Linked DNA regions of Homo sapiens: regions 1, 3 and 4 are each reported to be linked to region 2. Evidence: microRNA targets listed by miRTarBase, many of them from high-throughput screens and not tested one by one. Region 2 holds a microRNA gene; each other region holds the end of a gene's coding sequence.
The links. Region 2 holds the annotated microRNA hsa-miR-4478 (GAGGCUGAGCUGAGGAG, at 4,507-4,523, shown strand). A microRNA usually pairs through its seed, bases 2 to 8, with sites in the 3' UTR of a target mRNA and lowers its output. Matches are read on the target gene's strand: a 7mer-m8 pairs with bases 2 to 8, a 7mer-A1 pairs with bases 2 to 7 and ends in A, and an 8mer does both.

Region 1: miRTarBase lists ZNF99 as a target of hsa-miR-4478. Seed matches in the 3' UTR shown: 7mer-m8 at 2,997-3,003 and 7mer-A1 at 3,176-3,182.
Region 3: miRTarBase lists POLR1G as a target of hsa-miR-4478. Seed matches in the 3' UTR shown: 7mer-m8 at 5,758-5,764, 7mer-m8 at 5,628-5,634 and 7mer-m8 at 5,466-5,472.
Region 4: the mRNA of IREB2 is a reported target of hsa-miR-4478. Seed matches in the 3' UTR shown: 7mer-m8 at 3,073-3,079.

Annotation. Positions count from the first base shown.
Region 1 is chr19:22,750,806-22,757,967 of GRCh38, reverse strand. ZNF99 (zinc finger protein 99) reads left to right here. Exons shown (of 4, transcript NM_001080409.3): 4 at 1-5,785. The coding sequence ends at 654. Among named protein-coding and RNA genes, the nearest start is that of ZNF99, 30 kb to the left of the region's middle.
Region 2 is chr9:122,117,508-122,124,669 of GRCh38, reverse strand. MIR4478 (microRNA 4478) reads left to right here and starts at 4,503; the gene lies at 4,503-4,588.
Region 3 is chr19:45,408,771-45,415,770 of GRCh38, reverse strand. It overlaps POLR1G (RNA polymerase I subunit G), which reads right to left. Exons shown (of 3, transcript NM_012099.3): 3 at 5,034-7,000. The coding sequence ends at 6,270. It overlaps ERCC1 (ERCC excision repair 1, endonuclease non-catalytic subunit), which reads left to right. Exons shown (of 10, transcript NM_001983.4): 7 at 811-910; 8 at 1,737-1,808; 9 at 2,026-2,094; 10 at 6,046-7,000. The coding sequence ends at 6,096. Among named protein-coding and RNA genes, the nearest start is that of POLR1G, 5.6 kb to the right of the region's middle.
Region 4 is chr15:78,496,896-78,504,057 of GRCh38, forward strand. IREB2 (iron responsive element binding protein 2) reads left to right here. Exons shown (of 22, transcript NM_004136.4): 21 at 231-416; 22 at 1,138-4,558. The coding sequence ends at 1,248. Among named protein-coding and RNA genes, the nearest start is that of HYKK, 7.1 kb to the right of the region's middle.

The DNA.
Region 1 (7,162 bases), not on the chromosome of region 2:
CCCTACAAATGTGAAGAATGTGGTAAAGCTTTTAAGTGGTCCTCACACCTTACTAGACATAAAGTAATTCATACTGAAGAGAAACCCTACAAATGTGAAGAATGTGGCAAGGCTTTTAACCATTTCTCAGCCCTTAGGAAACATAAGATAATTCATACTGGAAAGAAACCCTACAAATGTGAAGAATGTGGCAAAGCTTTTAGCCAGTCCTCAACTCTTAGAAAACATGAGATAATTCATACTGGAGAGAAACCCTACAAATGTGAAGAATGTGGTAAAGCTTTTAAGTGGTCCTCAAAACTTACTGTACATAAGGTAATTCATACTGCAGAGAAACCCTGCAAATGTGAAGAATGTGGCAAAGCTTTTAAGCATTTCTCAGCCCTTAGAAAACATAAGATAATTCATACTGGAAAGAAACCCTATAAATGTGAAGAATGTGGCAAAGCTTTTAACAATTCCTCAACCCTTAGAAAACATGAGATAATTCATACTGGAGAGAAATCCTACAAATGTGAAGAATGTGGTAAAGCTTTTCAGTGGTCCTCAAAACTTACTTTACATAAGGTAATTCATATGGAGAGAAACCCTGCAAATGTGAAGAATGTGGCAAAGCTTTTAAACATTTCTCAGCCCTTAGAAAACATGAGATAATTCATACTGGAAAGAAACCCTACAAATGTGAAGAATGTGGCAAAGCTTTTAACAATTCCTCAACCCTTAGGAAACATAAGATAATTTATACTGGGAAGAAACCATACAAATGTGAAGAATGTGGCAAAGCTTTTAAGCAGTCCTCACACCTTACTAGACATAAAGCAGTTCATACTGGGGAGAAGCCCTACAAATGTGGAGAATGTGGAAAAGCTTTTAACAATTCCTCAACCCTTAAGAAACATAAGCTAATTCATACTAGGGAGAAATCGTACAAATGTGAAGAATGTGGCAAAGCTTTTAGCAATTTCTCAGCCCTTAGGAAACATAAGATAATTCATACTGGGGAGAAACCATACAAATGTGAAGAATGTGGTAAAGCTTTTAAGTGGTCTCAAAACTTATGGAACATAAGGTAATTCATACTGTAGAGAAACCCTACAAATGTGAAGAATGTGGCAAAGCTTTTAAGCATTTCTCAGCCCTTAGAAAACATGAGATAATTATACTGGAAAGAAACCCTACAAATGTGAAGAATGTGGCAAAGCTTTTAACAATTCCTCAACCCTTATGAAACATAAGATAATTCATACTGGGGAGAAACCGTACAAATGTGAAGAATGTGGCAAAGGTTTTAACAATTTCTCGACCCTTATGAAACATAAGATAATTCATACTGGGGAGAAACCGTACAAATGTGAAGAATGTGGCAAAGCTTTTAAGCAATCCTCACACCTTACTAAACATAAATCAATTCATACTGGAGAGAAACCCTACAAATGTGAAGAACGTGGCAAAGCTTTTAGCCATTTCTCACGCCTTACTAAACATAGGATAATTCATACTGGAAAGAAACCCTACAAATGTGAAGAGTGTGGTAAAGCATTTAGTCCTCAAACCTTACTAAACATAAGATAATTCATTCTGGAGAGAAACCCTACAAATGTGAAGAATGTGGCAAAGCCTTTAACCAGTCCTCACACCTTACTCAACATAAAACAATTCATACTGGAGGGAAAACCTACAAATGTGAAGAATGTGGCAAAGCTTTTAACCATCTTTCAGCCCTTACTAAACATAAGATAATTCATACTGGGGAGAAGCCCTAAAAATGTGAAGAATGTGTCAAAGCTTTCAACCATTTTACAAACCTTAATACACATAAGATAATTTATACTAGAGACAGACCCTCCATATGTGAAGAATGTGGCAAAGCTTTTAACCAGTCCTCAAGCCTTAATAGGCAGAAAACAATTCATGCTGGAGAGAAACCCCACAAATGTAAAGAATGTGGCAAAGCCTTTAACCAGTCCTCACACCTTAAATACACATAAAATAATTGATACTGGAGGAAAACCCTACAAATATAATAAAGGTGACAAAGCTTTTAACCATTGCTCAGCTGTTACTCAAAATGAGAGAATTCCTAAAGAAGATAAACTCCACAAATGTGAATAATATGGCAAAGCTTTTAACTGGTCCTCAAATCTTACTGAATGTAAGATAATTCATACTGAAGATAAACCCTTCAAATGTGAGGAATGTGGCAAAGCTTTTAATCAGTCCTCAAATCTTACTGAACATAAGATAATTCATAGTAGAGACAAACACTGCAAATATGAAGAATGGGCAAAGCTTTTAACCAGTCCTCAAACTTTACTCAACATAAAATAATTTATCTTGGAGAGGAACACTACAAATTTAAAGAATTTGGCAAAACTTTTAACTGCTTCTCAAAACTTACTGAACATAAGATAATTCATACTGGAGAGATACTTTACAAATGTGAAGAATGTGGCAAAGCTTCTAACGGGTTCTCAGATCTTACTGAATATAAGATAAATTAGAGAGAAACCCGCCTCATGTGAAGAGTGTGGCAAAACTTTTAACTGGTCCTCAAACCTTACTGAACATAAGATAATTCATACTGAAGAGAAACCCTACAAATATGAAAACTGTGGCAAAGCTTTTAACTGGTTTTCAGACCTTACTCAACAGAAAATAGTTGATACTGAAGACAAACTCTAGAAATGTGAAGAATGTGGCAATGCTTTTAATCAGTTAAACTTTATTAGACATAAGAAAATTCGTACTGGAGAAAAACCCTACAAATGTGAAGAAAGTGGCAATGCTTTTAGCCAGTCCTCAACTCTTGCTAAACAACATAATTCAATGGGAGAGAAACCCTACAAATGTGAATAATGCCATAAGCATTCTTCAATTTTTTTTTTTTTTTTTTTGAAACAGAGTTTCGCCCTAGTTGCCCAGGCTCTGGAGTGCAGTGGCACAATCTCGGCTCACTGCAACCTCCGCCTCCTGGGTTTTCAAGCGATTCTCCTGCCTCAGCCTCCCGAGTAGCAGGGACTATAGGCATGTGCCACCACGCCCACCTAATTTTGTATTTTTAGTAGAGACGGGGTTTCTCCATGTTGGTCAAGCTGGTCTCGAACTCCCGACCTCTGGTGATCTGCCCGCCTCGGCCTCCCAAAGTGCTGGGATTAAAGGCGTGAGCCACCGTGCCCAGCCTAATTCTTCAATTCTTAATAAACAATTTATACTGAAGAGAAACCCTACAAACGTGAAGAATGTTGCAAAGCTTTTAACGTCCTCAAACCTTACTGAACATAAGATAATTCATAATGGAAACTAGCCCTACAAATATGAAGAATGTGGCAAACACTGTAACCATTTCTCACATCTTACCACACATTAAGATAATTCATACTGAAGAGAAACCCGACAAATGTGAAGAATGTAACAAAGTCTTTAACTGGTCTTCAACTCATACTAAATATAAGAGAATTCATACAGAAGATAAATTTTATAAATATGAAGAATGTGACAAAAGCTTTAAAAACATTTCAACCCTTATTACACATAAGATAATTTATGTTGTAGAGAAATTCTACAAATGTGAAGAATGTGGCAAAGTTTTTTTTTTTTTTTTGAAATGGAGTCTCACTCTGTCGCCCAAATTGGAGTGCAATGGTGCAATCTCAGTTCATTGCAACCTCCGCCTCCTGGGTTCAAGCGATTCTCTGGCCTCAACCTCCCAAGCAGCTGGGATTGCAGGCGCCTGCCACCACGCCCAGCTAATTTTTGTATTTTTAGTAGAGACGGGGTTTCACCATTTTGACCAGGCTGGTTTTGAACTCCTGACCTCAAGTGATCCACCCGCCTTGGCCTCCCAAAGTGCCCCAAAGTGCTGGGATTACAAGCATGAGCCATTGAGCCCGGTCGAATGTGGCAAAGTTTTTAATAAGTTATCAAATCATACTGGAGAGAAGCTCTACAAACCTAAAAGACATGACAGTGCTCTTGAGAACACCTTAAACTTTTCTAAACATAAAAGAAATCATAGTGTCAAGAAGCCCTAGATGTGAGTCATGTCACAAAGCCTTTAAATGGTTGTCACACTTGAGTATAAGCTAATTTATCCTAGAGAAAACTATGAAGAATGTGGCAAAATATTTAACCAATACTCACACCTTATCGCATAGGAAAGCATTTATACTTGAAAAAAAATGTACACCTATGAAGAATGTGGAAAAGCCATTAATATCTGCTCACATCTTAACATCACAGAGTTTATACTTAAAACAAATATTAAAAATGCAATTACTGTGAGAATATCTTTTAGAAAATATAAACCTTAGAATGGTGAAGAGTATTTCTTTTGATGACAAACATTACAAATATAAAGACGGTTGTAGTACTATATTTGTATCACAGATCTTATTGTGCATATTTTGTGCTAGAGAAAAACCCTAAAGTTGCTCAAACTTTGTTCAATATCAGGGAATGTATAATAGAGAAAAAAACCTGCAAATGTAATAAATTTGGAAAAAAGTTTATAAACTACAGCTTAGAAAACAGAGTAAGTTTTTTTTGTAGATGCAGTAAATATGAAAAATATTCAATCCAAAATTAACTCTGTAAATGTCAGAGAATTCACAGTAGAAATGATAAGGCACTGGCACTTCAGACTACACTAAATCAGAGTGTTGAGTAAAAAAAATAATTTCAATCTAAAATTTAGATAAGTTATTTGCATATAACTTAAAAAAGAGGAGGTGATTTTTTGGAGAATTATAATTACATTTGAAGTATACTTTTTGTATACTTCAAATATCAAAAAAATTAACATCACAATATTGAAAAAAATTACAGACTCTGAAAAGCAAATAAGGATGTAATTCAACTCTCAAGTTACTTCATGCTCTTCATTCCTACTTTATTTACATGTGAAAGCATGCGATCAATTGTTGCTGCATCAGAGATATGAAAGATTCTTTTTTATTAGATGGGCATTATTTATGACCTTTTTCATAAAAGAGAAAGGATATTAAAATATAAAATGCATGATAAAAATCTAAATGGAGAGGCTTTTTGTGGTTAACTTAAAATATTGAGTGATGTATGAGGTAGGTGTTCTGAGGAATATATTTTTGTGCATTATAGTGAGAAAAACATTTTAAAATTTTAGTTAAAATTAAAATTAAATTAGTGATGTATTATATTAGTTGTGCTTTTATGTAATGTAGTACATTCATAAATTTTTAGATTATATGTAAACTTAATTTTTTAAACATTTTTTGACATGTTAAGTCTGTTGTACATTCAATGAAGTGTTATTATGCCACTCGCTTTAACCTATCCCACCTTACTCAAGGGTGTAGGTAAGAGATGGCAACAGTTTACTATTTGGTAAGAGTGGAATAACATCTCTAGTAATCTCTTTTTTTCAGTGGCTTTAACCTGCAAATAAATTAAAGAATATTGTTCTCGTAGGTTACATTTTTATACTTTTAATCTTATTTAAACTTCTTTTTTTTTTTGCCTTGACAAATTTAAACTTATTTTTCTTAACTTTTATGGGTACATAGTGTGTAGATATATTTCTGCCATATATAGCATATTTTGATACCAGCATAAAATATGTAATAATCACGTCAGGGTAAATGAGGGATTCTTCACCTTCAACATTTATTCCTTGAATTACAAGCAATCCAAATCTACACTTTTAGTCACTTTGAAATATAAAACTAAATTGTTATCTTTATTATAGCGTCATTTTTGTGGTCATAATAAAAATCATATAGGAATGTAAATAAAATCTATACATATCTGGGTCCTGAGTAAATATTTTTTTTAATTTGTCATCTATTTTTCTTTGAACATGTGGCCACTGTGCCTGCAAACACATACCTACAGACTTTTTTTTTTTTTTTTTTTTTTTTGCAGTTGCAAGATTTAATAGAGTGAAAACAGAGCTCTCATACAAAAGGAGGGGACCCAAAGAGGGTAGCTGGTGCCAGCTCAAATGCCTGGGTTTATATCCTGATCATTGTCCCTCCCCCTGTGCTCTCAGGGGATAGATGATTGGCTATTTCTTTACCTCCCATTTTTGCCTAATTAGCATTTTAGTGAGCTCTCTTTACTACCTGATTGGTTGGGTGTGAGCCAAGTTGCAAGCCCCGTGTTTAAAGGTGGATGCGGTCACCTTCCCAGCTAGGCTTAGGGATTCTTAGTCGGCCTAGGAAATCCAGCTAGTCCTGTCTCTCAGTCCCCCTTCTCAACAGGAAAACCCAAGTCCTGTTGGGGAGGTTGGCTGATGACCGCTCTAACTGCTTTCTGCTGAATTGGGGCATAGTAGGGGTTGTGCAGTTGAGATTTCCTCAGGAGGGGTGGCTTTGATGTCATCAACATCAGAGCATGGGCTTGCAGGCCGGTCCAGGGGTCCACGGTAGATCTTAGTCATGGACTGCATCTGGGGCTCCATTTGAAGAACGATTTGTAGCTTTACAGCTTGGATTCTGGAAGAGACAAACTTAACAAGGAGGTTAAAGATACAGGAATTGAAATGTATGGCCTGCAGTGCAGGAGATTATTTCTTTGGCACACTTCACAGGCCCTGACTATCTGCTTGATGGTTTTAAAAAGGCCTTGTCCAGTAAATAATAATTTGGCCATCTGATAGGTGCTATTAATGCCTAAGGGAAAGGTTTGGTGAAGGGTTTTAAGTAATTTCCATTGGTTAGCTGCAGGCAAAAGTATTTTTCCTTCTTCAGTGGCTAGCCATCCTGAGGGGAGGAAACTGTCGTCGTGAGGTTCCCCATTGTTTCTTCTGCTGAGTACTGGGGCTTGGTTTCCTGGAGGGGGTTACCCCATACTAGGGGTCCTTCTATAAGCATTTCTAATGGAGGGTCCTGCCTTGCATCTCTTTTGGCTTCAATGTCCGCTTGGCGGTTCCCTTCTATTTCCCTTTCCTTTCCTTTTTGATGACCCCAGCAGTGTAAGACTGCCACCTCTTTAGGTTTCTGTATAGCCAATAATAATCTAATAGCTTCCTGATGTTTGATAGGTGTTCCCTCAGAAGTTAGGAATTCCATTTCTCTCCATATTGCTGTGTGGGCTTGGAGGGCTAGGTAAGCATACTTAGATTCTGTATATATATTTACCCTTTTTCCTTTTCTTAATTCTAGTGCCCGAATGAGGGCTATTAGTT
Region 2 (7,162 bases):
TAAGAAGCGACTTGGTCAGATGGGCATGTGAGCACCAGCTAAGGAGGCAGGAGGGCCAGACGGGAGGGATGTGGTGGCCTGGACCAGGACAGGGGCAGGAGTGAGGTGGCAAGAACGACGCAGATCCCAGAGCTATTAAGGAGATGGACTCGCCAGGCTTTGGTGAGGAATTGGCCATGGTGGGCATGGAGCCGGAAGATGAAGTTACCTTGGGGCATATCAGTGCTGACAAAGGGGCCTGGGGGAGAGATGATGAGTCTGATGTGGCTCTGAGAGCCTGAGAGCCTGAGAGCCAAGGGGATGTCTGGAGAGGATGTCTGGAGAGGTATCAGCCTAGAGCCTGAGAGCCAAGGGGATGTCTGGAGAGGTATCCAGGAGGCAGTTGAAATCAGGCCTGGAGATATTCACTTGGGAGTTGGAAGGTTACTGACAGGTGGTTGAAGGCAGTGCACAGCTGAGGCCACCCAGGAAAGGTCCTTGGAAGCCCTAAGCACCAAAGATATGGTGTTCACCTCACCCCCATGAGTCAAAAAGGAGTCTAAATTAAATTATAAAATGTAACACTTACATGCCTTACAAAACTCTTGGACTGGCACGGTGGCTCACACCTGTAATCCCAGCATTTTGGGAGGCCAAGATGGGCAGATTACCTGAGGTCAAGAGTTCGAGACCAGCCTGGCCAACATGGTGAAACCCCGTCTGTACTAAAAATACAAAAAGTTAGCCGAGCATAGTGGCGCATGCCTGTAATTCTAGCTACTCGGGGGGCTGAGGCAGGAGAATTGCTTGAACCTGGGAGGGAGAGGTTGCAGTGAGCCGAGATCACACCACTACACTCCAGCCTGAGCAACAGAGTGAGACTCCATCTCAAAAAACAAAAATAAAAATAAAAACAAAAAACGTTTGCAATCATCACATCCATGGGTTCACAGAAACACATTTTCCTCCTCATCTTCCTTGTTTGATGCTCCTGGTCTGATGGTGCCCTGAGGTGTCTACCTGCTTGCCGGCTAGGTGGCCCAGCTCCAAATCCAGGCAAAAACAAGAGGCTCAGGGGGCACCAACAGGCTGGGACCGAGGGGAACAAGATGCCCACAAAAGAGAGAAGGAACACCCAGGAAGACTGGAGGAAACCCAGGAGAGTGTGGCATCACTGGGGCCAAGGAAGGAGGGGGTTCCAAGAAAGAGGACATGATTAGTCATGTAGAAAACAAGAGGAGGCACGGAGATGAGGACTGAAGAGGGGGCCCGGATATGGCTGTGGGGCTGCCAGGCAGGCTCAGTAAAGCAAAGCTGGTCACCTCTCCACGTATCTCTGCTCAAGGGGGCCAGCCTTTGGTGGGGACACTCGGGTGCCCTTTGCCCTTGAGGATCCTCCGGACCTACAAACAAGGAGGGAGTAAGACCCTGGGGTAGGGTTGAGGCGAGCTGACCTCAGAAGGAGAAAAGGAGACCAAATATTTCAGTGGACTCAAGGCAGGGGGCGCCTCTGGGTGGCAGTCCCTCCTCTGACCACAAGGGGGCAGCATAAAAGCAGGTCCTGCGTGGGCTCAGGCTTCTGTAAGGAGTCGGCTTCCAGATGCTGTTTTCATCTGTGATGCGTCCTTGGGCTCTCTGGGCCTCAGTTTCTTTCTCCGCAAAATGGGGCAGTTGGACATCATATTCTCTTGGACCCTGTTGGGATCCCCTTCATTCTGCATCCCCTTACCGCCTTCCCAGCTCAATGTGACACCCCCCATCTGACCACAATAAGTGTGTTAAGTGAGTAAGGTCAATGGCACAGGTATAGCATGTGGTGAGAACACAGAATGCTAGCCCGAGGAGGCCTACAGGCGTGTGCAAGGTTAGCTGAGTGAGGACAGACCATCCCATGAGCTTGGGTTAAACCTGCCTGCAGCGACCGTCTGTGAAGGTGGCCTCTGCTTCCTCTTACGGGGAGTACTGGGGTGGGGGTGGGGCTGCCTCTGCCTCTTCTGTCTGCCCCCAGGGCAGAGCTCTGGCTCTTTGTGCAGGCTCCTTGTCCTGCCACTGTTTGCCCTCTCTGGGACATGTCAGCACCTGTGCCCTCTTTGGGCCTCAGGGCTCATCGAGACAAGGAGGGAAAGAGCATGAGAGTCTCCTCAGCACTGCTGGTCCTCAGGTCTCTGAGGCAGCCCCACCCTATCCTGGGATGCCTCCCAGTGCTGCCCTGTGGGTCTGCAGTCCTTTGGTGCCAGTTGGTGGGAGGGGCAATGTGAGGGTCACGACAGTTGATTCCTGGCTCTGGGCCGCCATCAGATCTTCAGAGGGGCTGGTGTGCTGGTGGCTGCTGGTGGCCTCAGCTGGGGACAAGGAGTCAGGGTTGGAGCCTCATTCCATGTCTGACAAAGTGTGGCTTTAGTTGATCACTGCTGGTGGGTGGCAGGGAAGCTGAAGCCAGGGCAGGAGCAAGAGGTGGCCTGGGGAGACAGTACCTCTGTGGAGGGCCCCTTCCCCTCAGAAGCTGGGCCAGCCCAGGGCAGCCGAGGACAGTGACACAGGAGAACACCCACGGGCCAGTTGTCCGGTGCCAGCTCCCCGGCTGTGTGATCTTGGGCAAGTGGGCAACCCTCTCTGAGCTATGGTAGGGAGACCTATCCAGAATTCAGGAAAGCATGTTATAGGCCCAGGGCAGTCCTGGTATTGGGGCAAAGAAGGGCAGGCAACCCTGGGTCACCGACTTGTCCTAGGGGTCCAGTCCCCGGGATTTGGCCTCTTGGAGCCCACTGGGTGGGTGTCTAGGGGAAACTGAAGATGGATCTGACTCAGTTGGGTCCTGGTACCAGCATTTTGGCTTGGGAGTGGGAAAGGGTAATAAAGGACTCTACAGTCACAAGAGCTTGGCCGCTGCCTGGACAGGCAGCCTATGCAAGTCCCCTCCTATCTCTGAGCTGCCATTTCTTTATCTTTCTGAGTTCCACCTGGGGCAGGACCTTCAGCTTCCCAAGTCTCACCAGACCATCGCCTCCCGGGTGCCAGGCTGAGTTGGCTCTCAGGCCCTCTCTTTCCCAGGCGGGCCTCGGGTGGTGCCAGGTGCCGCAGGAGCTTCCGGTTGGTGCAGGGAGCTGGCTGGCGTGGGCTGTCTGAGGGCAACTGTCTCGGTGCTTAGCTGAGGCCTCATCGAGTGGCACCTGTGGCCCGGGCCAGCTGGGATGGGAAAGGGTGGTCTGGCCTCCACCTGCTCAGCTCACTTGCCCTCTAGCCACTCTCACTTGAGCCTCAGCCTCCTGTATCTGCTGCTGCTGCTGGAGCCCAAGGGGCTGGGGCCATGGCTGGGTGCCCCAAAGACAGGAGAGAAGGAGGTGCTGGGGCTTTGCGCCCTGGAGGGGACAGCTAGAGACTCATCAGGCAGGAAGTATCTCCTCTTCTTGATTCTGATCCTTCACCCACCTATGTCAGCCTCACACCTGTACCTGTACACCTGTGGGGCAGCCTTCCCCACCTGTGGTTTTCCCCACTTCTGGAGCCCTAGAAGAATATGTAGAGCAGGCTTGGGGTGTGGCCCCATGGAGCACCCCCAAACTGCCTCTGGTCCCCAGGCTCCGGCTTGTGCTGTCCCTTCCCGCTGTCTGGATTTTGGCCTGTCTGTGGGACCTTGAGGAGCCTGGAGCCTGGAGCTGCCAGCTCGTCTGGGCCCTCCAGGCTCCAGGATCTCTGGAGGCCATGGGTGGGGCTGGTGCTGGCCTTGTTGGTGTTGCTCCTGCTGGAGTAGTGGTGCCCTCTGGCATCTGTGCCTTCCACGGCAGGTCACTGGTGCCATTTGCCATGTGCAGTGGGTGCTGGAGTCTAAGCTCGTGGAAAACTTCCAAGGCCTGGGCTATGGTCCTCATGGCCGTGCGGCCTGCCTTGACACACACAGAAGGGACACATGCACTAGTGTGCGTTCAGGGGACACGTGAACACACCCCTCATATTCAGACAGGTGTAAACAGCTCAGCCACACAAGTGCTGAGCTCCAGCAGACTCACGCACGCAGCCACACATATAGACAAGGTACAGGTGTAGCCAGTGTGTGAACATTGATAAGTCTGTCAAGGCAGATATGTGCACAGTCCAGAACACAAGACGGGTAGAAAGGCAGACCTACAAATGTGCACAGATCCCTGCCAACAAACATGCATATCCATACATGCACATATGCATACACAAGCTGTCATGGGCACACTTACAGGGGAACATGCCTTACTCAGAGCACAGAGCATTTCTCCAGCCCTCCCTGCATCCACTGCAAATGGGGACACATGTCCTATCCCTCAGCAGGCAGGGAAGGGCTGGGGGAGGGAACTTCACCTTTTCTTAGACCCATGGCAATGGAAAGTGGGCACCATCTTGGGTGATGTAGCCAAATGTCTCCTGTTCTGGGAGTCTCGGCACACATAGAAGATTCTGGAGAGGAGGGGGAGGTGCAAGGCATGATCCACTTCAAGCAGCCACCAAGCCCAGTGGGAGCTGGGTCTCTGGGCTTAGCAAGACAAGAGCCCAGGGGCCGAGGCTGAGCTGAGGAGCCTCCAAACCTGTAGACAGGGTCATGCAGTACTAGGGGCGAGCCTCATCCCCTGCAGCCCTGGCCTCTGCAGGGACAAGGGAGAGGAGAGGGTACGTCTGCAGGAGGGATTGTGGATTCAGCCTCCCATGTAGGATATGAAGCGACTCAGGCTGGGAGCAATCAGAGATCCCTGGGTTTGTCATGGCGCTGGGGTCTCCTTAGGACATCAGAGCCAGCTGTTACCTGCAGGGAAACCATCCAGATATATTTAGATACACACATACTTAGCATTGCATTACAATTGCTGACAGTATTCAGCACAGTACCATGCTGTACAGGTTTATAGTGTAGGAGCAATAGGCTATGCCATGTGGCCTAGTTGTGCAGTAGGCTACACCATCTAGGTTCATGTAAGTTTGCCCACCAAAATTGCCCGGTGACACATTTCTCAGAATGTATCCCCATCTTTTTTTTTTTTTTTTTTTTGAGATGGAGTCTCACTCTGTCGTCCAGGCTGGAGTGCAGTGGCACGATCTCGGCTCACTGCAACCTCCGCCTCCCGGGTTCAAACAATTCTTCTGCCTCAGCTTCCTGAGCAGCTGGGATTACAATCACGTGCCACCACACCCAGCTAATTTTTGTATTTTTAGTAGAGATGGGGTTTCGCTATGTTGGCCAGGCTCATCTCGAACTACTGACCTCAGGTGATCCGCCCACCTCGGCCTTCCAAAGTGCTGGGATTACAGGCATGAGCCACTGTGCCCGGTCGTATCCCCATCATTAAGTAACGCATGACTGTGTTCATAAGGTTGTGCAACCGGTTCCACTATGGCGCTCCAGAACATTTTTGTGACCCCACAAGAAACCCTGTGGCCATGAGATGTCACTCCCCATTCCGTCAGCCTCTGCAACCACTAATTCACTGTTCGTCTCCATGGATTTTCGTATTCTGGGCATTTGGTAGGAATGGAATTAGACATTATGTGGCCTTCCGTGTCTGGCTTCTTTCACTTAGCATAATGTTTTCAGGGCCCTGTGCCTCTGGTTTATAAGTGAGGACACTGGCCCAGACAGAGGGAGTGACTGTCCAAAGTCACATAGCAGCCAGGAGTCAGGCCCCTACACAGTGTTGGCTTTTTTAGGACCTCAGCCTTGGTCCCTGGGGTTGTGGGCTGTGGACAATGGAAGAGGTCACACTTCATCTAAAGGGGCAGCTATTACTCAGCTCTGCCTGGGACAGAATCCAGGGGCAGCACTGCCTAATACTAAACACTGTAAATAATGATACAAACGGCCAGGCACGGTGGCTCAAGCCTGTAGTTCCAGCTACTTGGGAGGCTGAGGCAGGAGGATCACTTGAGCTCAGGAGGTCAAGGCTGCAGTGAGCCATGATTGTGCCACTGCACTCCAGTCTGGGTGACAGAGAAAGACCCTGTCTCAAAAAAAAAAAAAAAGTTACAAATAACACCAGCTAACATTTTGCATGCTTCTTTTGTGCCTGGTGCTGTTCTAAAGAAGTGCTGTATAGGCACTTTCTTATTTAATCTCCATGACAATCTTGGTGAAAGTGCTGTTATTATCCCCGTTATGCAGACGAAGGAAGCAGAGCACAGAGAGGTTAAGTAACTCAGCCAAGGACACACAGCAAGCTAGTGGCAGAGTTAGGATTGGAACCCAGGTAGTCTGACTCCAGAGCCCCTGCTCTTACCCACCTATACAGATGCATTCCTTCTTCCAGATTTGTAAAGGAAGGCAGTAATACAGATTTTAATGTGAAACCTCATAAGTTTAAATGTTTCCAAGTGTCGACAACTTATGACAATTGTTTTTTGACACCGTACAGGCTGCAGGGCCTAAGCCTGGAAAGTTTCGTTTAATACAAAGGGAGAGGGCCCTCACCTTTGGTTTCTTCCTCAGCATCACTGCCATTCTGTCCAATACCACTTGGTCATCTTCTCCCTGACATTTCTTGCAGAGGCAGAGAGAGCCTGACATTGGGCACCCAGGTCCCGCTGAGGGTCGTGCTATAGCAGACAGCCCCATGGCCTGGTGCTGGCCTTGTGCCTGGCAGTGTGACTCTGGGCCAGTCCCTTCCCCTCCCTCAGTCATTCTTTTCTCCTCTGCAACCTGGGCGGGGAAATTTCTCATGGGATTAAATGTGATAACTGGCACAGACTAGTCATTCAATAGCCATGGTTTTTTTTTTTTTTTTTTTTGAGACAGGGGTCTCACTATGTTGCCCAGGCTGGTCTCGAACTCCTGGCCTCAAGTGGTCCTCCACCCTTGGCCTCCCAAAGCTCTGGGATTACAGGCATCAGCCACTGTGCCTGACTGCCATAACCATTAGCTGACCCAGAAACAACGGGAGATACAACCTGTTGTATCTGCATAAAGGGCCAACATTTGGGTTGCAGAGGTTTGTTGAGACTAATAATACCATTTATTGAGCACTGAGATAATTCCAGATACAGTGCACATTACATGCATTGCCTCATTCAGTCCTGAACTTTTTAAGCCCTGGAGGCCAGCCATTAAGGTTATGGGCCTAAGGTTTGAGCTAGGCGGCTGATATGGTTTGGGTGTGTCCCCACCAAATCTCATCTTGAATTGTAGTTCCCATAATCCCCACATGTTGTGGGAGGGGCCCGGTGGGAGGTA
Region 3 (7,000 bases), not on the chromosome of region 2:
AAGAGCTGGCCTGTAGCCAGAAAAGATATCAAGATGCGCCCAGCAGTGGTTACTACCAGGTTGTATTTGGCGGGGGATGGGCTGGAATTTTGATTTTTAGCAACCACAATTGTTTTTTTTTTTTTTTTTTTTTTTGAGACGGAGTCTGGCTCTGTCGCCCAGGCTGGAGTGCAGTGGCGTGATCTCGGCTCATTGCAAACTCCACCTCCCGGGTTCACGCCATTCTCATGCCTCAGCCTCCTGAAAAGCTGGGACTACAGGCGCCCGCTACCACGCCCGGCTAATTTTTTGTATTTTTAGTAGAGATGGGGTTTCACCATGTTAGTCGGGATGGTCTCGATCTCCTGACCTGGTGATCTGCTCACCTCAGCCTCCCAAAGTGCTGGGATTATAGGCGTGAGCCACCACACCCGGCCTTTTTTTTTTTTTTTTTCTGAAATGGAGTTTCACTCTTGTTGCCCAAGCGGGAGTGCAATGGCGTGATCTTGGCTCACTGCAACCTCCGCCTCCCGGGTTCAGGCGATTCTCCTGCCTCAGCCTCCTGAGTAGCTGGGACTACAGGCACGCGCCACCAAGCCCAGCTACTTTTTTGTATTTTTAGTAGAAACGAGGTTTCACCATGTTGGCCAGGCTGGTCTCGAACTCCTGACCTCAGATGATCTGCCTGCCTCATCATCCCAAAGTGCTGGGATTACAGGCGTGAGCCACCGCGCCCGGCCTAGTATTGGCAATTCTTATGACTGACCATAATGAAGCAAATCTATAATCTGATACCTCACCTCCCGGCTGCCCTGTATCCTGTTATCCCAGCCCCGAGGAAGCTGGGCGGTACCTGGAGACCTACAAGGCCTATGAGCAGAAACCAGCGGACCTCCTGATGGAGAAGCTAGAGCAGGACTTCGTCTCCCGGGTGAGGCCACCTCACCTCCCATCCCTGCCTGGGCCTCCCCGCAGCTCCTGGGTGGTTGAGCTTCAGTTCCAATTTTAAGGCACTGTCCATTCATCCCTGGGCCTCGTCTTTCCTGGCCCATCCCACCGAAACTGCAGCTAGAGGGGTTTTCCTGAGCACAAATCTGCTGCTACCCTCCCTAGCTCAAAATCCTCCCATGGCTCCCCAGTACCCCGAGAGAAAGCCCAGACTTCTCACCAGGCTCAACAAGGGCCCGTCAGGCTCAGAAGCCCCGTGGCCTCCACTTCACACTTCACTTCTCCCAGGCCTAGCTCGCTTCTCCAAGCACTTGCCCCTTCTGTTCCCTCTGCCCAATTACCTGCCTAATTCCTTTTTTTTTTTTTTGAGATGGAGTCTCACTCTCTTGCCCAGGCTGGAGTGCAATGACATGATCTCGGCTCACTGCAACCTCTGCCTCCCAGGTTCAAGTGATTCTCCTGCCTGAGCCTCCTGAGTAGCTGGGACTACAGGTGCCCACAACCATGCCTGTCTAATTTTTGTATTTTTTAGTAAAGATGGGGTTTCAGTGTGTTGGCCAGGCTGGTCTTGAACTCCTGGCCTCAGGTGATCCTCCCGCCTCGGCCTCGAAAGTGCTGGGATTATTAGGCATGAGCCACCACGCCCAGCCTGAGATGACTTTTTAATCAGTTGGGAAAAAAAGCGTTTATTGAGTGCTTCCTGCACGCCAGGCAGTCTGGGGACACAGCTGTGACCCAGCCCTGCCCTCCTAGGCTCAGTCTTGCTGGCCTTTCTTCTTCCGACACACTCCTGCCTCCACCCTTTCCAGGTGACTGAATGTCTGACCACCGTGAAGTCAGTCAACAAAACGGACAGTCAGACCCTCCTGACCACATTTGGAGTAAGGAATGGCTCCCCTGCCCCATAGGCATTTCTGTCCCCTTGCCTTTTTTAGAAAGCCTGTCACCCATTTCCTTCCATCTCCCTGCCCACCCCTTGCCCGTCCTGCCTTCCCACAGGCCCTCATCTCCCCTGGGGAATATCTGAGGCCCCTCCTCAGCTGGGACAGGGGAGGCTTTTGTGCTCAACTGCCCTGACCCCTCGCTTTCACCTTTCAGTCTCTGGAACAGCTCATCGCCGCATCAAGAGAAGATCTGGCCTTATGCCCAGGCCTGGGCCCTCAGAAAGTAAGAGCTCTGGGAAAGAACCCAAGGAGTTGGGGGAAGGAGAGAGCCCCAAATAAACACAACCTGAGACCCCAAAGTTTTAAGGTGAAAAAAGAACCAAAGACCAGACACAGTGGCTTCCGCCTGTAATCCCAACATTTTGGGAGGCCAAGGCGGGAGGACTGCTTGAGGCCAGAAGTTGGAGACCAGCCTGGGCAAGTGGACACCTCATTTTTACTAAAAATAAAAAAAACTAGCTGGGCATGGTGGTGTGAGCTTGCTACGTGCCTGTAGTCTCAGCTACTGGGGAGACTGAGGTGGGAGGATCGCTTGAGCCCAGGAGGTTGAGGCTGCAGTGAGCTATAAGCATGTTACTACGCTCCAGCCTGGGTGACAGAGCGATCCTGTCTCAAAGCAGAAGCAATCCAATGAGGAAGAATGAAACTAGATAGCTATCTCTCGCCATATACAAAAATCAAATTAAAATGGATTACAGACTTAAATCTAAGACCTCAATGCATGAAACGTCTACAAGAAAACATTGAGAAGCTCTCCAGGACATTGAACTGGGCAGAGATTTCTTGAGTAATGCCCTATAAGCATAGGAAACTAAAGCAAAATGGACAAATGGGATCACATCAAATTAAAAAGCTTCTAAGCCAGGTGCGGTGGCTTGGGCCTGTAATCCCAGCACTTTGAGAGGCTGAGGCGGCTGGATCACCTGAGGTCAGGAGTTTGGGACCAGCCTGGCCAACATGGAGACACCCCATCTTTACTAAAAATACAAAAAAGTAGCCAGGTATGGTGGCACATGCCTGTAATCCCAGCTACTTGGAAGGCTGAGGCAGGACAATCGTTTGAACCCGGGAGGTGGAGGTTGCAGTGAGCCAAGATAGCGCCATTGCACTCCAGCCTGGACAATAAGAGTGAAACTCTATCTCAAAAATTAAAAAAAAAAAAAAGAATAAAAGGCTTCTGCACAGCAAACATTCCACAAAGTGAAGAGACAACACACAGGATGGGAGAAAATATCTGCAAACTAACCATCTGACAAGGAATCAATAATCAGAAGATAAGAGTTCTAACAACTCTATAGGATAAAATATAATAATCCAATCAAAAAGTGGGCAAAATATTTGAATTAACATTTCTCAAAAGACATACAAATGGCAAGCAGGCATATGAAAAGGTGCTCAGCATCATTGATCATCAGAAAAATGCAAATCAAAACTACAGTGAGGCTGGGTGCAGTGGCTCATGCCTGTAATCCCAGCACTTTGGGAGGCCGAGGCGGGCAGATCACTTGAGGCCAGGAGTTCAAGATCAGCCTGGCCAACATGGCGAAACCCCATCTCTACTAAAAATATAAAAATTAGTTGGGTGTGGTGGCGCATGCTTGTAATCCCAGCTACTTGAGTGGCTGAGGCAGGAGAATCTCTTGAACCCGGGAGACGGAGGTTGCAGTGAGCTGAAATCACACCACTGCCCTCCAGCCTGGACAACAGAAGCAAAACTCCATCTCAAAAAAAACCAAAAATAGGCCGGGCATGGTGGCTCACGCCTGTAATCCCAACACTTTGGGAGGCCGAGGCGGGTGGATCGTGAGGTCAGGAGATTGAGACCATCATGGCTAACATGGTGAAACCCCGTCTCTACTAAAAATACAAAAAAAAATTAGCTGGGTGTGGTGGTGGGCACCTGTAGTCCCAGCTACTCGGGAGGCTGAGGCAGGAGAATGGCATGAACCTGGGAGGCAGAGCTTGCAGTGAGCCGAGATCATACCACTGCACTCCAGCCTGGGTGACAGAGTGAGACTCCATCTCAAAAAAGAAAACCAAAAACCAAAAATAAACTATAATGAGATACCATCTCAGCTCTATTAAAATGGCTTATTATTATTTTTTGAGATGGAGTCTCACTCTGTTGCCCAGGCTGGAGTGCAATGGCATGATCTCAGCTCACTGCAACCTCCGTCTCCTGGATCCAAGCGATTCTCCTGCCTCAGCCTCCTGAGTAGATGGGATTACAGGCACTCGCTACCATGCCCAGCTAGTTTTTGTATTTTTAGTAGAGATGGGGTTTCCCTAGGTTGGTCAGGCTGGTCTTGAACTCCTGACCTCTGGTGATCCACCCACCTCGGTCTCCCAAAGTGCCGGGATTACAGGTGTGAGCCATGGTGCCCGGCCTTAAAATGGCTTTTATCCAAAGGACAGGCAATAACAAATGGTGGACAGGCAATAACAAATGGTGGCGAGGATGTGAAGAAAAGGGAACCCTCATATACTTTTGATGGGAATGTAAATCAGTACAACCACTATGGAAAACAGTTTGGAGGCTCCTCTAAAAACTGAAAAGTTGAGGTTCCACATGATCCAGCAATCCCACTGCTGGGTATATCCCCAAAAAAAGGAAATCAGTGTATGGAACAGGTATCTGCACTCCTGTTTGTTGCAGCACAGTTCACATTGCCAAAACTTAGAACCAACCTGTGTCCATCAGCAGATGACCAGGCAAAGAAAATGTGGTACTTACACACAATGGATACTCTTCAGCCATAAAAAAGAATGAGATCCTGGCTGGGCGCGGTGGCTCACACCTCTAATCCCAGCACTTTGGGAGGCCGAGGCGGGCAGATCACTTGAGGCCAGAAGTTCAAGACCAGCCTGGCCAACGTGGTGAAACCTTGTCTCTACTAAAAATGAAAAAATGAGCTGGGTGTGGTGGCGCGTGCCTGTAATCACAACTACTTGGGAGGCTGAGGCAGGAGAATCGCTTGAATCCGGGAGGCGGAGGTTGCAGTGAGCCAAGATTGTGCCACTGCACTCCAGCCTGGGCGACAGAGCGAGACCCTTTTCAAAACAAAACAAAACAAAACAAAAAAAACATGAGATCCTGTCAATTACAACATAATGAACTGGGGATTATTATGTTAAGTGAAATAAGCCAGGCACAGAAAGACAAACATTGCATGTTCTTATTTATTTGTGTATCTAAAAATCAAAACAATTGAACTCATGGAGATAAGAGTGGATGGATAGTTCCTGGAGGCTGGGGAGGGTAGTTAGGGGCTGGCAGGGAGATGGGGAAGGTTAATGGGTACCACACACACACACACACACACACACACACACAAAGAAAGAATGAATAAGACATACTATTTGATAACACAACCAGGTGACTATAGTCAATAATAATGGTACATTTTAAAATAACTTGGCAGGGTGCGGTGGCTCACACCTGTTATCCTAGCACTTTGGGAGGTCAAGGCAGGTGGATCACGAGGTCAGGAGTTCGAGACCAGCCTGGCCAATATGGTGAAACCCCTGTCTCTACTAAAAATACAAAAATTAGCCGGGTATAGTGGTGGGCACCTTTAGGCCCAGCTACTCGGGAGGCTGAGGCAGGAGAATCGTTGGAACCCAGGAGGCGGAGGTTGCAGTGAGCCAAGATCACACCACTGCACTCCAGCCTGGGTGACACCAGGAGACTGTCTCAAAAAAATAATAATAACTTAGCCAGGCGCAGTGGCTCACACCTATAATCCCAGCACTGGGAGGCTGAGGCAGGCGCATCAGGAGGTCAGGAGATCGAGACCATCCTGGCTAACGTGGTGAAACCCCATCTCTACTAAAAAAAAATACAAAAAATTAGCTGGGCAGGGGCCTGTAGTCCCAGCTACTCAGGAGGCTGAGGCAGGAGAATGGCGTGAACCCGGGAGGCGGAGCTTGCAGTGAGCCGAGATTGCGCCACTGCACTCCAACCTGGGCGACAGAGCGAGACTCCATCTCAAAAAAAAAAAAAATAATAATAATAATAATAACTTAAAAAGATTGTAACTGGATTGTTTGTAACTCAATGGATAAATGCTTGAGGGTATAGGGGAAAATAAAGAACCAAAACCCCACTCTAGATTTACCCAGGAAACAGCTCCTTTAATGACTGGTTCCTCATTTTTTTCTCCCTCCCATCCAGGCCCGGAGGCTGTTTGATGTCCTGCACGAGCCCTTCTTGAAAGTACCCTGATGACCCCAGCTGCCAAGGAAACCCCCAGTGTAATAATAAATCGTCCTCCCAGGCCAGGCTCCTGCTGGCTGCGCTGGTGCAGTCTCTGGGGAGGGATTCTGGGGGTGTCACCTTCTGGTGGCCCAGGTGGGCACCTTCAGCTTTCTTTAGTTCCTCAGTTTCCCGGGGGCAGACTACACAGGCTGCTGCTGCTGCTGCTTCCGCTTCTTGTCCCGGCCTGTGGGAGCCTCCTCCCCAGACTCTGAATTCAGTGGCGGCCCTGGCATCTCCTCTTGGGGCACTGTCTCTGGCATCCGGCTTTCCTGACTCTGCTTCTTCCTCTTCTTGGTGGATCCCGGAGTTGCCCTGGCTTCAGGCTGTCCCTCCCCTGGCAGTTCAGGCTCTAGTGGCTGAATTGGCTCAGTCACTGTGTGACCTCTCTCTTTCTTCTTCTTCTTCTTCTTGGTGGATGTGGGAGCTGCCTGAGGCTCAAGGTCATCCGGCAGCTCAGGCCCCACCACCTCTGTCTCTGGCTCCACTGTGGCATCTTGCTGTTTTTCTTTCTTCGTCTTCTTTTTGGGAGCTGCCAGAGCTGCCTGGGCCTGAGGCTTCGCTCCTTCTGGCTGTTGAGGCGCCATGGTCCCCCCTGGGGACTCCAGAGGCTTCATCTCCGGCTCCACTGGCTCCATCGCCTCCGTCCCTGGCTCCATCATTGCCATCTGTCCCTTTTCTTTTTTCCTCTTCTTCGTAGGGGGCAGAGGGATGGCTTCCTCCAGTGGCTCCACCTTCACCTGTGGCTGAGACTCAACTGTCACCCCCTCCTCTGGCTCCATCCCTTCCGTCCCCTTTTGCCTCTTTCTCTTTTTGGTCGGGGACAGGACTGTGTCTTCTAGAGGCTCAGTGTTAATCTGTTCCTGCTTCACTG
Region 4 (7,162 bases), not on the chromosome of region 2:
AACCCTAGAGCAGCAGAAAGGGATCCGAATAATTTAGAGAGCTCCATAAAAATTCAGAAAAATAATCTGTAAGAAGGTTCTGTAAATACTTTGATAAAATATTGATTCAGTATGAGATATTAGACTAAAAGTATTTAGAGAAAGGCCAAAGTAGATTTTTGCCCCCTTTAAATGCTCAATAAATAACTTTCAGAAGTGATTAGAGGGAATAAAATGCACATTTATTACAGGGTGTGAAAGCTGTTTTGGCCGAAAGTTATGAAAAAATACACAAAGATCATTTGATTGGAATTGGCATAGCTCCACTTCAGTTCCTTCCAGGAGAAAATGCAGATTCCTTGGGCCTCTCCGGTAGAGAAACATTTTCTTTAACATTTCCTGAAGAACTGTCTCCTGGAATTACATTGAATATACAGGTATCTCTAAATTTTTCAAATATATGATTATGCACTCAAATGTTTATGAATTATTGAATAAGAATCAATTGCTGTAAATTATATACTAATGTCACTTAATGAATGTTAAGTTGCCATTTAAGATGACTCTCTCTTCCATACTTAGATCTAGCTATGTTAATAGTTCATGTTCTCTGAGGAAAAGTGGAAAGAACTGGGTGCTTATACCAGAAAAAAAGAACACATGAAGGGGAATCTTGACTTCCACTTAACAAGTGTCAGCTTTCTTTTCATGGTGGTCATTTTTTTGCTGTCCTGATCTAATTTTAACCGAGGCATACATACCACTCCAAAGAGAGCAAAGTTGAGCGTTCAAAGTTAGAGCAAAACAGACTTTACAACTAAGAAAAAAGGGGAAAGAGTAGGAGTTACTGATTACATGCAATCAATATTTGGTGTAAAATGAATGTGAGTAGTGAGTATAACTTCCCCAATTAATAAGTCAAAATCTAAATGCAGCTATTTTTCTACTTAACTATGAAGCCCATGGTCAGGTATCTCAGGTGTTTTTCAAGCAGCAGCAAAGTTTCAGGCAATCAGAATATAAGAAATTAGAACCAAGATAAATCAGACAGAATCTGTGGCAAGTATAGTCATTAAATATGAAGACAAATGGTCTTAACCATCAAGTAGCACCTGGAAGATTTACTTGCTCACATGAGATGTTTTTGCTCCTTTCAAGACAAGCACTGGAAAAGTATTCAGCGTGATTGCTTCGTTTGAAGATGATGTGGAAATAACATTATACAAACATGGAGGATTATTAAACTTTGTGGCACGAAAATTCTCATAGTATCTACTTACCATAGATACCTTTCATAACTGGTAACTGCAAAGCCTTTTGTGCTGGACCCAGGAATCCTTACCATGGAGCAGCAGATAGTCCCAGTATACTCACTTATCTCATCCATGGATGTAAATGATGATGAATCAACATAGTAACTGAAATGAAATCTTCTTGATTTTAAATAATATACGAATGGTGCTATTAATATTGCTAAAATCAACGTGTGAAGTGTGTTGTGGAAGAGACCTGTAAGTATGGGGGGGGGGCGATATTTTATCAGACCATTTTGTAAATAAAGGCAGAATTTGTGTTGAAGATTCTTATATGAATAACCTTCCTGGATTTGTTTAGTTTTGCACCAATAAAACTGTGTACTACTGTTTGTTGGTTTAAGAGTAGCAGATTGAAATATAAGAAGCCAGATTAGACTCTAAAATTGTGGCCATTGGAATCTCATTTATAAATGGACCTTTTAAGTATATTAATTCCTCTTCAGAATTGAGCTGGACACATTTGGCATTCTTAGTTTGTCATATAACCAGGTTTATCCTTAGTCTAACTGCAAGGGATGGAACCTGCCCCAGGTCACAATCATTCTGTCCAATCCAGCCAAGGTTCCCTCCACATATGAAGATGGACCATGGCAGGATACAACTGATTGTGTGGCACCATGTATTAGCAGTGGGAATATGTATCACATATGATGCAGCCTTTCATATTTCAGCAGTTTGCCACTGTGACTGTCTGGCAAGCCCCCAGATGGCGTTATATTAATTGGATTAGATTATTTTGCTCACCTTATGTAATACTGTAACTTCCTATAACCTAATATTTTCGGTATCATTAACCAAAATTTCACACTCATAGTTGCTAAAGAGAATGTTATTCAATCATTAAACTCTGAACTGATTTCTTCTATACATTTAAATTATCCACCCTCAATAATACGGGTGCTCAACCCTATGCATTTTTTAAGTGTTGCTATTTCTTAATTAAATTGATTTCCTGTCATTTTGAATCATTTATCACCTGCGATGCATGATTCTATTAATTTTGTTATGTTACTGTTTTAACCAAAGCTGACCGTAAGGATAAAACACTTAAGTTGTTGCTGAGTACTATATATCCTCAATATGCATGTCTGCCCATCACATCAAATGTTCTGTCAACAAGATGTTTGGTAATTTTTTTTAAAAAGGTTGGAAAATTAATTATAGAAGGTTCTATACTGTTTTTTTAATTAAGAAACTAAGTCTAGCAGGCTAAAGGTTAATTGTAGTGATTTTTTTTCACATAGATATCTTTCTATGACCTAGTTAGTTACTGCAATTCAGAATTAGTTCACATTGCATAAAGAATTACTTGTTGTAAGCAAAATGCTGAAACTACCAAACCAGTGGATGAAGACCACTAAGAACTTTGCACATAATCATACAATCTTTTGAAAATATTTTGCAAATATGTGTTTAGACAATAAGATGGACTAGAGTTCGACAAAATGATTTCTTTATTTAAATTTTGTATAAGTATTTTCTTCGACACTTTCAAATTATATTGTGTTCTTGATATATGCTGTATATTTATTTGTTAGTGCATGTGTTTTTAATTTACATGAAAACATGAGTTAGGAGAAATTACAGGTTGAAAGATGAAATGCCTGTATGTGCTCTGAAGAAATGGTAATTCCAGATTGTGCAGGGGGAAACAAATCTATTTTGTTTTGTTTTGTTTTTTGAGACGGAGTCTTGCCCTGTGGCTGGGCTGGAGTGCAATGGCGCGATCTTGGCTCACTGCAACCTCCGCCTCCCGGGTTCAGGGGATTCTCCTGCCTCAGCCTCCTGAGTAGCTGGGACTACAAGCATGCACCACCACGCCCAGCTAATTTTTGTAGTTTTAGTAGAGATGGGGTTTCACCATGTTGGCCAGATGATCTGAATCTCTTGACCTCGTGATCCGCCCGCCTTGGCCTCCACAAGTGCTGGGATTACAGGTGTGAGCCACCACACCCGGCCTATATTGTTTTGAAAGCATACTCTATATATAGTTATGGGCAGAGGCACAGGCATCCTCAGCAGCTGATTCAGGAGATGATGGTAAAGCTAGCTAACTATGAATTAAACATTCACATATCCAGTCTACCTGGTCCAGTAATAATACAAGCAAATCTTGTATTTCAGGAACAAATCAAGGTTCTCTTAATTTTTTGGCTTATATACAATGAAGTAAAAACTTGATAAACATGGTTTCAAATTGAGGAGGAGAGTCTTGGATGTATGTTTTAATATGTATACCTTATAATTCTGCCTCTAGCCAAATGCTATGTTTGCAAAATGTGGCATCTGTTAGTTTTTATTGTCTGTGTCTTCTTTGTTTACTATACCTTGGGTAATTTTGTGTTACCAAAAAAAAAAAAAAAAAAAGGAAGTGTAATGTCAGACACACAAGAAAAGCAAATCAGTGTTGTAAGCTTAAAGTACAATTTCAAAGGTCACTACCAACAGCAGGGTTTTTTTTATACTTTGAAAACATTATGCTACATATCATTGCCATTTTCATATTTTGGGGTTTTGCTACTCTTATACAATGGAATCAATGGAAATGTCATCCAGCCACTGAATTGCCATTATTATATCTAAAAAGTTTCTAAGATGACAGTTATCACTATTTTGTTTTATCTCCATGCTGACATTTGAAAGAAGGTACTAGTATCCCTCTAGCCAGATTGCTTAGTTTTTCGTTGGTAATCAAACAACAGTTGTACTAAAGGAAAGTAAAGCTAGGACCTAAATCAGAATCATAGTTGCCTGCATATATGGTAACAAGGTCGTGTGCATTTGCTTTCACAGTGATGAGTGAGAGGATGAGAAGAAATTATTTGACATTTTTCTGTGGTTGAATAGAAGACACCTTTCTTTTGTCTTTAGGTTTAGGAGGAGATACTAAGATACTGGATGTTTATCCTATCTTAGTTTGGTTGGAGTAATAAGAGAGAAGAAGAGGGTGGACTTTGGCTTTTCAGTGTTTTTTCCCCTAAAGAGTGATATTGCTGACGTTTCTATCAATTTTACACATAATATGTGGCTATGAAACCATATATCTCACTTAAGTAACAAAGTAATCACTTTGTCTATCACTAAGTAATAGACAAAAATCATTGTCTATTATTTAAAGCCAACAAAACAGTGTAACAGTTTTAAGTTCAATAATGTTAAGTATTGTATAGAAATATATTGGAGGCAAAGTTCAGTTGATGACAATTGTGTATATGTTACTGATGCTGTAAATTATTTTTAATAAAGAAAATTGTATTATCACATTTGATTCTTGTTCTGTTTTGTAGTAGTTGAAAATAAAACAACATGATGTAAAAAATATGCTGCCATCCGGCTGGGCACGGTGGCTCACGCCTGTAATCCCAGCACTTTGGGAGGCCGAGGCAGGCGGATCACGAGGTCAGGAGATCGAGACCATCCTGGCCAACACAGTGAAACCCTGTCTGTACTAAAAATACAAAAAAATTAGCCGGACATGATGGCGGGCGCCTGTAGTCCCAGCTACTTGGGAGGCTGAGGCAGGAGGATAGCATAAACCCGGGAGGCAGAGTTTGCAGTGAGCAGAGTTCACGCCACTGCACTCCAGCCTGGGCGAAACAGTGAGACTCTGTCTCAAAAAAAAAAAAAAAAAGCAAAAATGAAATGTCCCGCCATCCAGATGCCATCCAGGAGCAGCTGAGGATGCCTGCTCCCTGTGCTGCCCGTTCATTAGTGTTCATGAAACAAGTCATCGGAAGCTGGGAGCCAGGATCCCAGGTGTATTTGTTTGTTCTCGCATTGGTATAAAGAAATGCCTGAGACTGGGTAATTTATTTTAAAAAGAGGTTTAATTGGCTCATGGTTCTGCAGGATGTACAGGAAGCATGATGCTGGCATCTGCTTGGCTTCTGGGGAGGCCTCAGGAAACTTACAATCAAGGTGGAAGATTAAGTGGGAGCAAGCACTTCACGTGGCCAGAGCAGGAGGAACAGAGAGACAGGGGAGGTGCCACACACTTTTAAACAACTAGATCTCAGGAGAACTCACTATTGGGACAACACCAAGGGGGATGGTGTTAAACCATAAGAAACCACCCCCATAATCCAGTCACCTCCCACCAGGCCCCACCTCCAACACTGGGGATTACAATCCGACATGAGATTTGGGCGGGGACACTCATCCAAAAAGACGTATCCTTTCTTCCCACTATTATTAGCAACCTAAAAGAGTAAGGTTTATTTCTTAGAATTCAGTAATCATAAACCATAATTGGCACTTTATTAGAATTTTCTAAGGATTCCAATTTAGTATTCTAAGAAGTTTGCATTACCTAAAGGCTAATACCAACATAGGCACAAGCTGATAGTTTGAATATGCAGTCTAGGAGGAAACTTAAGAGCTTCATCAGTGTAGCATTTAGTTGGTTTACAGTTTTCACTTGATGCTAATTTTGCTTTTTAATTACAAAGTAGCTTCAGATTTACCATTTTGATTTGATGTATGTTGTAAACCTGTGTTCTGTACTTGAAAAATGCATTTATTGCAAAAGCAGATGCATATGTAATTCTCACAAAATTTGCTGGTATAATGACAAGTGTGGCCAGGCGAGGTGGTTCACACTTTGGGAGGCCAAGGCAGGAGGCAGGAGGATCACTTGAAGTCAGGAATTTGACCCCACCCTGGGCAACATAGCAAGACCCTGTTTCTTAAAAAATAATAATAATTAGTTTGGTGTGGTGCTGTGCACCTGTAGTCCCAGCTAGTTGGGAGGCTGAGGCAGGAGGATCGCTTGAGCCTAGGTTGAGGCTGCAGTGAGCTATGATTTATGCCACTGCACTCCAGCCTGGGTGACAGCAAGACCCTGTCTTTTAAATAAGTGTGTTGTCACTGTGAATTTTGTGTTTATGTGGTGTTAGTACTGAATTTTAAGCATTTTTTTCAGTATTTCCCTATCAATATCTATATGATCTGTGGCAGGGTCCCTTTTTATTACCAATATTGGTAATTTGTGTTTTCTTTTTTTTCCTTGATTAGTCTTTCTAAAGGGTTAGAAATTGAGTTAATTTTTTAAAGAGCCAATTTTTTACATTATTTTCTCCATTGTTTTCTGGTTTTTTGTTTGGTTTTGGTTTTGGATTTTTTTTTTTTTTTTTTCTTTTTGAGACGGAATCTGGCTCTGTTGCCCAGGCTGGAGTGCAATGGTGCGATCTCGGCTCACTGCAACCTCCACCTCCCGGGTTCAAGTGATTCTCCTGCCTCAGCCTCCCGAGTAGCTGTGATTACAGGCATGCGCCACCATGTCTGGCTAATTTGTTTTGTATTTTTAGTAGAGACGGGGTTTCACCATGTTGGCCAGGGTGGTCTCAAACTCCTGACCTTGTGATCCGCCCACCGGGGCCTCCCAAAGTGCTGGGATTACAGGCATGAGCCACCGTGCCCGGTTTGTTTTGTTTTATTGGTTTCTGCTCTGAAGTATTTCCTTTCTGTTACTTATTTAATTTCCTCCTTTCCCCCAGCTTTGTAACACTTTTCCTCCAATGTAAATGTAAATATTTAAATTTTCCTCTAAGTGCTGCTTTAGCTGTAGCCCACCGTGGAAACTAAAGCCAATTTTGAGCATTTTAAACAACTTGTAATATATAAAGGAAGTATCATAAAACTGCTGGGATATTGTTTTATGAGACATTGTTTTATAATGTAAAATCATGTCCATAATCTCACTGCAAATTGTTCATTTTGTTTCACTCCAGTTTTGTTTTTTTTTTTTTTTTATCGCTGAGCTCTTTTTTAAAAAAATTATAAAAATAGAGGTGGGGGTCTCACTGTGTTGCCCAGGCTGGTCTTGAACGCCTGGCCTCAATCAGTCCTCCCACCTCAGCCTCCCAGAC